2 linked regions of the Homo sapiens genome follow. The protein of the gene in region 1 interacts with the protein of each later gene in a biochemical or structural test. Each region holds a gene or a part of one and is shown in the gene's direction. Other genes may lie near its edges.

The links. The genes of interacting proteins can lie anywhere in the genome.
Region 2: the proteins of TJP3 (region 1) and AMOTL1 interact in a test that uses a peptide from one of them, tested with the Homo sapiens proteins (one large-scale study listed by IntAct).

Annotation. Positions count from the first base shown.
Region 1 is NC_000019.10:3,706,674-3,710,616, forward strand, and holds the start of TJP3 (tight junction protein ZO-3), read left to right. Parts: upstream 1-1,710; 5' UTR 1,711-1,888; intron 1,889-3,943. UniProt on the Homo sapiens protein: TJP1, TJP2, and TJP3 are closely related scaffolding proteins that link tight junction (TJ) transmembrane proteins such as claudins, junctional adhesion molecules, and occludin to the actin cytoskeleton.
Region 2 is NC_000011.10:94,865,856-94,869,355, forward strand, and holds part of AMOTL1 (angiomotin-like protein 1), read left to right. Parts: intron 1-86; coding exon 87-313; intron 314-3,342; coding exon 3,343-3,500. UniProt on the Homo sapiens protein: Inhibits the Wnt/beta-catenin signaling pathway, probably by recruiting CTNNB1 to recycling endosomes and hence preventing its translocation to the nucleus.

The DNA of each region.
Region 1 (3,943 bases):
CCTCAACCTCCCAAAGTGCTGGGATTACAGGGGTGAGCCATTGAGCCCAGACTTAATTTTTTAAATTTTAATTTTAATGTACTGGTAAAGATGGGGGGGTGTCTCACTATGTTGCCCAGACTGGTCTCGAATTCCTGGCCTCAAGTGATCCTGCCACCTTGGCCTCCAAAGTACTGAGATTATAGGTGTGAGCCATCATGCCCAACCCTTCCTGGTTAATTTTATTTTATTGAGATAGGATCTTGCTCTGTCACCCAGGTTGGAGTGCAGTGGCACAGTCATAGCTCTCTGCAGCCTCAACCTCCCAGGGTCAATTGATCCTCCCACCTCAGCCTCCTGAGTTTCTGGGACTACAGGTGTGTACCACCACATCTGGCTAATTTTTAAAAAAGTTTTCTGGGCTGGGCGTGGTGGCTCACGCCTGTAATCTCAGCACTTTGAGAGGCCAAGGCAGGCGGATCACCTGAGGCCAGGAGTTCAAGACCAGCTTGGCCAATATGGTGAAACTCCGTCTCTACAAAAATACAAAAATTAGCTGGGCATGATGGCTGGTGCCTGTAATGCAATCCCAGCTACTCGGGAGGCTGAGGCAGGAGAATCACTTGAAACCGGGAGGCAAAGGTTGCAGTGGGCCGAGATCAAGCCATTGCACTCCAGCCTGGGCAACATAGCAAGACTCTGTCTCAAAAAAATAAAAAAAAAATAAAATAAAAACAAAAAACAAAACAAAACCAACAACAGCCAGCAGCAACAACAAAAAAACTTTTCTAGGCCAGGCTCGGTGGCTCACGCCTGTAATCCCAACACTTTGGGAGGCCGAGGCGGGCAGATCACTTGAGGTCAGGAGTTTGAGACCAGCCTGGCCAACATAGGAAAACCCCGTCTCTACTGAAAAAAAAAAAAAAAATTAGCTGGGCGTGGTGGTGCACGCCTGTAATCCCAGCTACTTGGGAGGCTGAGGCAGAAGAATCACTTGAACCCAGGAGGCGGAGGTTGCAGTGAGCCGAGATCGCGCCACTGCACTCCAGCCTGGGTGACAGAGGGAGACTCCATCTCAAAACAAACAACAAACAAAAGATATATAAAAATTTTTCTAGAGATGGGTTTCACCGTGTTACCCAGGCTGGTCTCAAATTCCCAGGCTCAAGTGATCCTCCCACCTCGGCCTCCCAAAGTGCTGGAATTACAGGTGTGAGCCACCACACCTGACCCTTTCTTGTTTTTTAGATGAGGACAGCAAGAAGCCCCTGTAATTTGCCCAAAGCCACACAGCGGGGAAGTGGCAGAAGCTTCTGTACGTAGGAACCCAGTCACTTCGTAGCAGAGAGGCAGACTGCGCACAGATCTGCGTGGGGAAGGGAGTGCGCCAAGCCACAGCCTGATGGGCCGGCGTGCCTGGCAGGAGGCTCAGCAAGCACAGAGACTGGGCAGCTCCAGATGCAAGAAGCAGGAGGGAGGGGGACTCCGGGAGTGCGGTCCATTCATGTCTGAATGTAGCCAACGAGGGTTTCCTAAGCACCTACCATGTGCGGACGCTTGATACCAGGGCCTCGGCGGTGAGGGCACAGGCAGGAGCAAGCTCACCTCTGGGCAAGCAGGGGTTAAGGCCAGTTGCTCCCACGTGAGGGCACCTTGCGACAGAGCCACACACCCAGTCCTCCTGCTGGCCCGCCCCTCACCCTGGTCCGTCTCCCTGTGTCTGTGGTCGTCAGTTCCACTGGCAGGGGACCTGCCTCCCTGTTGCCACCACAAGAGAGGAAAAGTTGGTCAAACAGGTGGGGAGGCCAGAGCTACAAGCCTCGGGTTCCCTCCCCACCACCCGTGCCAGGCAGGCACCCGGGCCCTGGCACCTGCTGCCTGCCCAGAGGCCACCCAGCCTCCTAGACAGGTAAGTCCCCCGCCCCACTGTGCTTTTCCACCCAGTGTGCATTGTCTGAGCTGGCCTTCCCCAGCTGAGGGTCCTTAGACTCCCCCCCAACCTCCCCCACCACGAGCTGTCTCCCCGGCTCCTCGGAAAGCAGGAAACTGACACTCCTGCGTGGGCATCTGACATAGTTTCGTAGGGATTATCTGACCGGCAGTTACTGCACCTGGCGGCCTGCCCAGGACGCTGAGCTGGAAACTTAAAAGGGTCATTGTTACCTAGGTGGCGCAGGGACCGGGGAGGCGGCAAAGGGGCACAGGTTGGTCTCTGATCCCCCTAACTGAGGAGGGGAGGGGATATCAGTCCAGACGGAGCCTGGGTTTACCTCCTGCAGCCCGAGGCTAGGAGGTGACAGGTGGGAAAGGCTGCGACCTCACTCATCTCTGAGCCTCCTGGAACTTCTTAAAAGGCTCCCAAGTTTTGAAACAACTGCGTCTCCCGCCCCCCAACCCCTCACCCTGTTCTCACCGCTGGAACCTCCAGGAGCTTTGCAGGGAGGGATTGGGGTGGCCTTTCTTTTGCTAATTTTTTTTTTGAGACGGAGTTTTGCTCTTGTTGCCCAGGCTGGAGTGCAGTGGTGCGATCTTGGCTCACTGCAACCTCTGCCTCCACCTCTGCCTCCCGAGTAGCTGGGATTACAAGCGCCCACCACTATGCCCAGCTAATTTTTGTATTTTTAGTAGAGATGGGGTTTCACCATGTTGGCCAGGCTGGTCTCGAACTCCTGACCTCAGGTGATCCAACCCCCTCGGCCTCCCAAAGTGCTGGGATTACAGGCGCAAGCCACTGCGCCCAGACTTCTTTTTCTAATCTTTACTCCTCCGAGCAAAATCTCTGTGGGATGGGGCAGAGGGGAAGGAGGAAGGAGCGCTCAGAGCCAGAGAGGGGAGGGGTCGGCAGCAAAAGTGTTTTTCTGGGTCATTTGCTCCCAAATGGGAAGACCAAGGGAGCTTCCTCGTGAGCCAAGTGTCCGATTGCATCTCAAGTCTCTCTCCAGAACCAAGAGGGTCCCCCGGGGCCGAGGAGGCATGGATGATCGCATAGTGGGGGACAGAGCGGCCCGGCATTTGGGGTCACCTTGTGGCTGTGTGGCTGCAGAGCTCCCAGGGAGCAGGCTTGCTTGAGATTCGGGAGTCCGTGGGGGTGGGCGACATGGATCCCACCTTGCCTGGGTTTTGAGAGCAAACCCGTGGACTCAGTTAGATCTGGCTTCCACACCTCCCTTCTCTCCGGGCCTCTGTTTCCTGCTCTGTAAAATGGGGATATTGAGGGCCGGGCGCGGTGGCTCACGCCTGTAATCCCAGCACTTTGGGAGGTCGAGGCGAGTGGATCACAAGGTCAGGAGTTCGAGACCAGCCTGGCCAACATGGTGGAACCCTGTCTCTACTAAAAATACAAAAAATGAGCCGAATATGGTGGCAAGCACTTGTAATCCCAGCTACTCCGGAGGCTGAGGCAGGAGAATTGCTTGAACCCAGGAGGTGGAGGTTGCAGTGAGCCGAGATTGTGCCACTGCACTCCAGCCTGGACAACAGAGTGAGACTCTGTCTCAAAAAAAAAAAAAAAAAAAGGGGTGGGGGGATATGGAGTCACCAAGGCACAGGGCTGTTGAGTGCCGGATGTAATAAAGCGGGTAACAGATTCTCGGTCATTCTGGGGTCAAGACGAGCTATCCCGGTCCGAATCGGAGTCTGGTCTCATCAGCTTCCTGGTTTGTAGAGGATGAACCCTGGCTCAGAGAAGGACAGCCGCTTACCCCGGGCCGCACAGCCAAGTAGAAATGTCAGGCGGCCAAGAGTCAAGACGCAGAGGACAGGGAGCTGGTGGCGGGGGTGGTGCTCTGGAGGCTGGCCCTGCCCCCAGCTGATGCCTCAGGCTCAGCATCTCGAGAAAGTCCTGCCCCCTGGCTTGGTGCTTCCTCGTGGCCCTGAGTCCCGGGGAAAGTCCAGGGCAGGGAGTATGGGTACTTGTTCTTCCTCTTTAGGGCTGGCCAGGGGCCAGGGGAGCTGTGTTTGCTCA
Region 2 (3,500 bases), on another chromosome or scaffold:
AAGTCTTTGGGACAGCCTGAGATAAATGTTTCAAGTTTTTCTAGCCAAGTGGCTTTTTATGGAGACTGTTTTGTTTTGTTTTACAGTATTAAAAATCTCCATGCCAAAATCATAGAGAAAGATGCTATGATTAAGGTCCTGCAGCAGCGATCTCGTAAAGATGCCGGGAAGACAGACTCCTCCAGCCTACGTCCTGCCCGCTCCGTTCCATCCATAGCAGCAGCTACTGGGACACACTCTCGCCAGACCTCTCTTACCAGCAGCCAGCTGGCTGAGGAAAAGAAGGAAGAGAAGACCTGGAAGGGGAGCATAGGTGAGCCCCACACCTCTGTCAGACCATGATTGGAAAAGCAAGACCAGACAGCTTCTCTGCCACTCATGGGACACGGAAATGTCCCTGAATAGTTCCTGGTCTCAGTTTACTCATCTGTGAAGTGGGGAGGGAAATCAGTCATACTTCAGTTATAGATATGTGGAAGCATTGTGTAAATTCTAAAGACTGCACCACTGGAGTAGCTCTTAGCCATGGGTTGACTCAGATCAGAATTATCTATTATTGTTGTAAGTTGAGGTGACCCTTATAACACAAAAGGCTCTCATAGAAAAGCCTAGAGACATCACGCCTCTGAACTTGGCTCTGCTCTAGACCAGTTGTATGACGGCTCCACCTCTGCTTCCACGTCTGGAAAGGGAGGACAGTGTCTGCCTGCTTTACCCCATGGGGAGTGGGAGGGAATAATGGGATAATGGGGGGAGGAGAGTGTCTGCCTGCTTTACCCCATGGGGCGTGGGAGGGAAGAATGGGATAATGGTGGGAGGAGAGTGTCTGCCTGCTTTACCCCATGGGGCGTGGGAGGGAAGAATGGGATAATGGGGGGAGGACAGTGTCTGCCTGCTTTACCCCATGGGGCGTGGGAGGGAAGAATGGGATAATGGGGAGAGCACATTGGAAGAAGTGCTCTCTCGCATAAGGTAGGGGTGGTAAGTTTTTGCTGTATTGTTGTTGCATGGGCAGAATTCCCTAAGTGTGGTCTTAGCCAGGAGTAGGTTTCTTGGGGGCAGGCAGGCTTGTTGGCTGGCTGGGCTAGCCAAGCTGGAGGGGAAGCAGGCAGCGTGCTCAGACACAGGTCCTCCACATCCTTCCCCTGCACTCTGGCCTCTCCAGGGGTCTGGCCCTTCTTTGATGCATTTCCCCACATCAGATCGTGTTTTTGTTTCTCTGTGCAGCTGAGAGCCAGTGGTCCTCAGCATAAGACCCCAAAGGAGACTGGCTGCTCTGGGCCAGAGGGGATAAGAGCTTCCATATGAACCCGACAGAGTTGGGGGGATCAAAGGCTCCCAACCAGAATCTGTGTTTGAAGTCCCTCCACTGGTGGCTTCAGCAGCCCCTGCCCCCAAAGGAAATGCACTTCAAAGAAGACGTGTGTGGACAGCAGCTGAGATCATCAAAGACTGTCCCAAGGACATTTAGCTCCCACCCCAGCTAGAGAGCTGGGAGGCAGTGCTGAGCCAGGCCTGGTCAAGGAGTTTGAAAATTTGCTCAGCTCTGGTAGCAACCTCCCTGGGAGTCCCCTGTTTGTGACGTGCAGCCAGGCAGGCATCTCTGGTGTCTGTGCCCGTATGCCCCAGGACCTGGCATGTCTAAACCAGGCCTGGGAGCCGGAGGACTTGTTTGAAGGAAGAGCTGCTGTGTTCCCTGCACTGATATTCCTCCTCATTGTTGTCATTGGTGTCCACGTGTCACAAACACAGGGACTCTCCAAGGGGCTGAGGCAGGTTCATGGGTGACTGCACAGTTCCCCACATGTTGTCACCATTGCTTGCCTGATAGGCTCTGGAAGGAGGTGGAGGTGACAGCATATACCTTCCCAATTGCCCAGGGTATCCCAGGAGCTATGGCTGGCTAGTGACTTATTCAGCCTGTCACTCCCTACGAGGACATCCTGCAGACTCTGGAGTTTCCACAGGCTGGGCGATGAAGTGGAAAGAACATAGGTTGGACTCCAAGTCAGGCACAGTTGGGTTTGAGTCCCATTTCTGCTGCTTCTTAGCTGTGAGATGTTAGTTTTTGTGAGCTTCCATTTCCTTCTCCGTAAGACAGGATAAGGCCTGTCTCGCAGGAATGACATGCAGTATGAAGTGAGATGATGTGGGAAGCGCAGGTGAAGGCCTTTGCTGCTCAGCGTGGTCTGTGGACCAGTGGCACCAGCACCATCTGGGAGCTTCTTAGAAATACAGAATCCCAGGCCCTGCCTGCTGGATCAGGTCTTCCTTTTAACGGTATAGCCAAGTCATTGTTATGCACATTGCATTTTGAAAAGCACTGCTCTCGACAAACTGAACTGCCCTGAGTTCTAAATGGGCACCTTAAAACAGCTCTGGCGAGGATACTTTATGAATTGCTGGCTATCTAACCAGATAAGAGAACAAATACTTGATTGCGCTTACCGCCTTTTCTATAGGCTAGCATTCTAGGGTGCTGGCACTTTCCCGCGTGTGTGCTGTATTTAAAAATAAAAAGTTATCCTCCCACCCAGCTTTCCAGGAAGGCTCTGAGGAAAATGGACACCTCTGCACACCACGCCTCCCATTTCCATAGCCAGCATCCCCTCTTCCCCACCCCAGCCTCACTACTCTTGAGGAAGGGGGTAAGGAGAGGGCTAAGTGGCCTTTCCTAGGAGGCTGGCTGGCTTTCTGCTTCTGGGAGGCTACAGTTCCACCGCAGAAATGTGCAGGTAGCATGTTTATCTTTGAATCCAAGCCTGTGGGGGACCATCATCCATTACAAGGAGTGGGGTGGAATTGTGAACTATTCAGAAGAGCAGCAAGCCAATGGGAACATGTCTAGGACCGGGGAAGCCTTGTAGTTTTTCTTAAGCACACTGCCACGCTTCAGGCCAGCCCTTCTGGGCCACGTTGGTAACAGCAAGCATGGTCTCTGGAAAGCCTTGTGGGAACCTCCCTACCCCTCCTGCTGGCAATTAGGCACTTCTCTGTTCGTCCATACCACCCTGTGAATAATTTATTTGTATCCTACAGTTTATATATTAAGTTATAATCAGTTTACTTGACAACTACTTCTCCACTCCAAAAAAAAAAAACAAAAAAAACACACAAAAAAAACCTACAATTTTTTAGGAAGGGGACTAGGTCTTCCATTTTTTATTCTCTCAGTGTTTGTTATTTTATCAGCCTTGTAATAAGTGTTTATTAAATGCTTGGGGAATGAATCAATGAATGAATGAAGCAATCATCAATCAACAAGGAACAGATCTGCAAGACTAGATTTAAAAAAAAAAAAAGGAAAAAAAGAATGTTGAAAAATCTGTTCTCTGCCCTCAGGATTGCTGCTGGGGAAGGAGCACCATGAGCATGCCTCTGCCCCACTGCTGCCACCCCCACCCACCTCAGCACTGTCCTCCATAGCCTCCACTACGGCAGCCAGCAGTGCCCACGCCAAGACAGGCAGCAAGGACAGCAGCACACAGACTGACAAGAGT